Regions from separate parts of the Homo sapiens genome. Here region 1 is linked to region 2. The links come from fine-mapping of genetic effects on plasma protein levels. A gene starts in region 2. The other region holds a variant in brackets. All regions are shown on one strand. Distances are between the middles of the regions.

Evidence for each region. PIP is the posterior inclusion probability: the model's chance that the variant is causal. The UK Biobank Pharma Proteomics Project read protein levels with antibody pairs (Olink). The fine-mapping took linkage between variants from a reference panel, not from the people measured, so its PIPs are less certain.
Region 1: its variant is fine-mapped to the plasma level of the SPESP1 protein (UK Biobank, PIP 0.97).

What each region holds. Positions count from the first base shown.
Region 1 is chr15:68,904,807-68,907,720 of GRCh38, forward strand. No RefSeq gene overlaps it. Among named protein-coding and RNA genes, the nearest start is that of SPESP1, 24 kb to the right of the region's middle. The variant T/C (reference allele first, on the strand shown) is at 1,240.
Region 2 is chr15:68,928,924-68,931,837 of GRCh38, forward strand. SPESP1 (sperm equatorial segment protein 1) reads left to right here and starts at 1,602. Exons shown (of 2, transcript NM_145658.4): 1 at 1,602-1,794. The coding sequence starts at 1,731. It overlaps SPESP1-NOX5 (SPESP1-NOX5 readthrough), which reads left to right and starts at 1,602. Exons shown (of 17, transcript NR_033672.2): 1 at 1,602-1,794.

The DNA of each region.
Region 1 (2,914 bases), 24 kb before region 2:
TGCATCTACATATATATTGATGTCTCCATACATGTTTTTTTTTTTGAGACTGAGTCTCACTCTGTCGCCCAGGCTGGACTGCAGTGGCGTGATCTCAATAGCTCACTGCAACCTCCGCCACCTGGGTTCAAGCAATTCTCATGCCTCAGCCTCTCAAGTAGCTGGGACTACAAGTGCCCGCCACCAGGCCCAGCTAATTTTTGTATTTTCGGTAGAACAGGGTTTCACCATGTTGGCCAGGCTGGTCTTGAATTCCTGACCTCAAGTGATCCGCCTGCTTCGGCCTCCCAAAGTGCTGAGATTACAGGTGTGAGCCACCACACCCGGCCGGAATACGTACTTCTTTTAAACTAATTTTCCATATTTTGGATGTACCTTCGTTATCTATAACCACACTGATGGATCAAAAATGGTTAGCCTCTTGAGGCTCTCCTTGATTTGTATAACAACATTACAAACAAGGACTAAAGCCTCCTTTTGTCTAATTCTGACCCGGTTCACAGACCAAGAGCCCTTTGAAAAAAGAGGAAGCTGGATACCCTTGAGGAACAAATAACTAAAATGCCACAAGTATGTACTCAGGGTCCAACTCCAGTTCATTTCTAATGGAATAAACAATTAACCAGCTAACTGTGTGGTGAGAAAAGAGAAGTACCCAGATTTTGGGAAGTACCCAGATACCTTAATTCACAGCAACCCAGAAAGCCACTGTTGTCCCCAGAGGATGTGGGGTCTTATAGGGCAAACTTTAGTCTTAAAACACACATGTAGAACTTCAAAGACTTTTCCCTTACCAATGGAGTTATAGCTTCCCAAGTGCATCAACATATTTTTGCTTTGTTCTAGGTCAGTAGAAGACTTGAAAAAAAATGCTAGGCAGCACATACTGTTTATGACATTGTGTCACAGATGGGAAAGTAAAATCTGGGCATGTGAAAGGAATGTTAGCATCCATGGCTCAGGAGACCCCACTCCTCCACTTCCTTGATGCCTGTATTCCAGGTCTTTAGCAGTGAGCACTTTTTGCACAACAGCCCTGCCAATGAGAGAAGCTACAGCCTCTTACACACACACATACACACACACACTTAGAAAAAGCAGGCACAGACTTAGTAAAATATCCTCATGGCATTTCCTAGATTCTAAGAAGTATGGCTTTTCAGGTATTAGCATTTCTGAAATTTGATGTATTCATTTTTATTTAATCAGTGTGTTTCTTTAAAGTGGCAGTCCTTACTT[T/C]TGCAAAAACAATTTTGTTATTAAATCAGTGGACATTTCATCCAGGCTTCTGGGAAAGCCATGCTATTCACAGGTTCTGTGTTGGGAGTGGCCCAATTTCCAACATTCAGAGAGTTCTCCAGCCTCAGGTCAGCCACTCAAGGAGAAGCTGGAGCTGTCTTCCCGCTGTCCCCATCTCCCTCCACTCCCTGGGCCTGCTTGACTCCTTTAGACATAATTAGACTCTTCTTATATCTTTTCAACTCAGAATGGGCAAGGTTCATGTTTTCATGAACAGTAGGACCAAATTGCATTGTGTGATAGTTTAAGGTTAGGTGGTTAACTGTGATGCAAAAATACATAAAAATCTGAAAAAAGTAAGCATTTTGATAACTTGTTTTTATAATCAGCCTAATTTTTAATCAAGTCTACTATTTAATTTATAATATAACATTATTAGTCAATTTAGGGCAGTAAAATTTGTGTCATTTCTTTTTAGCCATAATTTACTAGAATTAACTTTCATTGGAATTTTTAAAAATCTAGAAAATACATACCTTTTCTAAATGTAGCACGAGTAGTAAATCAAATAATAACGATGAAAGTAATTTTGAAGACATGACAACCAAAAGAGTTTCTGCTAGATTGACTCAGAAGTATAATCCTTTACATACTGAGTTCAGTTGCACTGCTCTAATTAATTGAGAAGCACTAAAATTTGAATGTGTTATTTGCAGAGATATACTGGCTAATGTAAGCAATTCACCGTCAAACTATAGGCAACATGCATACGCAACTCATAAAGACACACATTCACAATGAAAAGAATTGTTTGAAAGAAGGAATATTGAATTAAAAAGTTAATGGAAGAAGATGTTCAATATTTCATATATGAAGAGTGAGTAGTACTTTTCAGGCTTCTTATCAAGTAGCACTTTGCATGACTAGGACAAAAAATTAAATTGTGGTGACATTAGCAAAAAACTTCATAAAAAATGTTTGCTTGGAAATGATGGGGGAATCTTGAGCAAAGAAGATACTGTGAAGACTGTTTTCCAATGAAACTATAGATTAATGTATTTTAAAACTATCTAATTATGTGGAAGACCAATTTATGGTACAAATAAAGCCAGCAAACTATTTTTTAATGAAACCTGATGCACAGGTAACGCTAACAAAGCAATTCTTTTAGTATATGTGTTATTTGAGCATGATGGTAATATGAAAGTAGAATTTTTTTTTCCAACTTCATTACCATAAACAGAACTCAGAACTGTATAAAATGATGATAGATTACACTGTCTATGTGGTTTGGAGATTAGGGGTAGAAGTATTTTTGATGCACAGATGTAATGACAGGTAAGCATTCTGGAGTAGTTAATCCAGAGAAAAGAGCTGGGCCAGAATATAAACCAACATGCTGTTCCTTCATTGAGAAAGTCTTGCTATCAAACAAACAAACAAAAAAACCAGCTGAACCAATAGTGTCTTAGCAGCATAGTTAAAATTGTGAGTTACATAAAGGATTATGTGTTAAATGTGAGGCTATTCTGTGATCATATGGAAGCTAATCATAAACAAGTGGTGTTGTATGATGAGGTATGATGGTTGCTGAGTGGAGAATTCTGCAGAGAATAAACATTCTCTGCAAACACCAACTCCTGGTATTTCTGCAAGATAAGAAACTAATTTGGTC
Region 2 (2,914 bases):
AGCTGCCTGCCAGTCCCCGGCCCTGCGCCCGCACTCCTCAGCCCTTGGGCGGTCGATGGGACTGGGCGCCGTGGAGCAGGGAGCGGCGCTCCTCAGGGAGGCTCAGGCATGGCAGGCTGCAGGTCCCGAGCCCTGCCCTGCGGGGAGGCAGCTAAGGCCTGGCGAGAAATCGAGCACAGCAGCTCCTGGCCCAGGTGCTAAGCTCCCCCCAACTGCCCGTGGCCAGCGGGGACGGCCGGCCGCGCTGAGTGCCGGGCCCACCGAGCCCGCCGAGCCCACGCCCACCCGGAACTCGGGCTGGCCCGCAAGCGCCGTGCGCAGTCTCAGTTTCCGCCGGCGCCTCTAGTCTTGCTTCCCTCCAGTCCATTCTTCATGCTACAGGAAGAGTGAGTTTTCTGGAATACAAATCTAATCACAACCGTTCCCAGCTCAAAACCTAGCAGTACTCTAGTACTGGTGCCTCAGACTAAAATCCAAGCCCCTTGCTTCCTGAGGCAGAGATGAGTGTACGTGAATTTTTAAAAATAACCATACAGAAAAACAGATTCTTTGGGATGTGCAGTTCTGCGAATTTTTATTTTTATTTATTTTTTTGAGGTGGAGTCTTGCTCTGTCGCCCAGGCTGGAGTGCAGTGGCACGATCTCGGCTCACTGCAACCTCTGCTTCCCGGGTTCAAGTGATTCTCCTGCCTCAGTCTCCCAAGTAGCTGGGACTACAGGCGTGTGCCACCACCCACGCCTGGCTAATTTTGTATTTTTAGTAGCCACGAAGTTTCACTATGTTGGTCAGGCTGGTCTCGAACTCCTGACCTCAGGTGGTCCGCCCACCTCGGCCTCCCAAAGTGCTGGGATTACAGGAGTGAGCCACCGTGCCCGGCCTTCTGTGAATTTTAACACATGTATAGATTCTTGTGGCCACTGCCATCTATTAGTCCCCAAAACAACCTCATGCTATCCTTTCATAGTCGTACTCTCCCTCATCCCTACCCCTATCTTTTTAAGAAGGTCAAAGAAATGGAATGTGATCTTTTGAAAAACAAAAACACCCAAGCCCCTTAGGGCGTTTTTAATGCCCTTGCCTACCTCTCCTCCCTGTCCTCCAACAACTGCCCTCCCAAGCCCCACAATGCAACTCGCCGGAACTATGCTCAGTTCTTGGGGTGCTCCAAGCTGTCCTCCACTTAGCCAAGCTCCCCACCCGCTTCCGGGGGTGGGTTTCCACTGTGCACAACAGTACCTAGCGCTTCCCCCACTACAGCCCCCTTTCACGCTGTGGTAATTGCCAGGTTATCTGCCTCTCCCATTACAGTTCCTTCCTCACAGGGACCGCGTTTAAACCACGGCGGTATCCCTACCGCGCAGGATGGGCCGAGCCCCGCACGCCCCGAGGCAGCACCCCGCACGCAGTAGCCGGGCGTCGAGGCGTTCCCAGCCCACACCAGGCGCGGACCTACGAAGGCGGAGCGAGCATGCGCACTAGGAAGGGGCGGGGCGGGGCGCGCGCGATCCCCCGCCCCCTGCACGCGGTCCCAGGAGGGGCGGGCCTTGGCCGCTCGCTCTCCCCTCCCCCATGCCGCTGCGCTTGCGCGCTGGGGACAACCGTTGCTGGGTGTCCCAGGGCCTGAGGCAGGACGGTACTCCGCTGACACCTTCCCTTTCGGCCTTGAGGTTCCCAGCCTGGTGGCCCCAGGACGTTCCGGTCGCATGGCAGAGTGCTACGGACGACGCCTATGAAGCCCTTAGTCCTTCTAGTTGCGCTTTTGCTATGGCCTTCGTCTGTGCCGGCTTATCCGAGTGAGTGACGGGCCTGAGGAGGCAGCGGACCGGGGACACCCTGGGGGAACTTCCCGAGCTCCGCGACCTCGAAGCCTGGCCCTTCCTTCTCCCTGGTCCTACATGCCTCCCTCCCCCACTGTCCGGGGTCCTGGCCTCGACGCCGAGGGGTGTCCCTCTCCTCTCCTGGTCAGGGAACGCAGCAACTGAGGCGGCGCGGCCCAGATGAGACGGGAAGCGCCTGCGGGCCGTGGGCGCGGGTGGAACCCCCTCACCTCACCGGAGGCCTTCCTCTGCCCACCCGATCCTTCCCCAGCCATTGGGCGTGTGACCGTGCAGGGGTCGTGTGACAGCTGCTGGCCAGCTAGGAATGATTTTTACATTTTCTTCCTTTTTTTTTAATTATTATACTTTAAGTTCTAGGGTACATGTGCACAGCGTGCAGGTTTGTTACATATGTATCCATGTGCCATATTGGTGTGCTGCACCCATAACTTGTCATTTACATTAGGTATATCTCCTAATGCTATCCCTCCCCCCTCCCCCCACCCCACGGCAGGCCCTGGTGTGTGATGTTCTATTTTTGCATTTTCAAAGTAAATATGAAATGTACTCTTTCATGACTTGTGGAAAAGCATGACGCTCACATTTCATTGTTCGTGAATAAAGTTTTACTGGCACACCACCACGCTCATTCCTTTACGTATTGCCCATGGCTGCTTTCCCACGTTAGAACAACGGGGTTAAGTGGTTGCCACACAGTCTGGTCTGCAAAGACTGAAGTATTTACTCTCTGGCCCTGTACAGAAAAAAAGGTTGACCCGTACGGTAAAATTTGGAGAGCATGTGGATTGTGGGTCGCGGTCTGGGACACTCACCTGAGGATGCGCTCCCAGAGAGCATGCTTGCGCACACGGCATTCAAAGCCTTAGTTAAGCAGGATTATAACTTAAGACCTGCCAAGGAGCAATTTTTGTCCCTCCCCGAAAGCTGAAAACCAATAAGGTCAAATTCAGGGGTGCTAAGACTTTACTATATTAACAATATCATGTGGGCACCTTAAGGCACTTAGTATTTAAGTCAGGTAGGTGAGGCTTCCCCATTTAGTCTAACTGTAGTTCATTGTGGCATTTAGTAATGT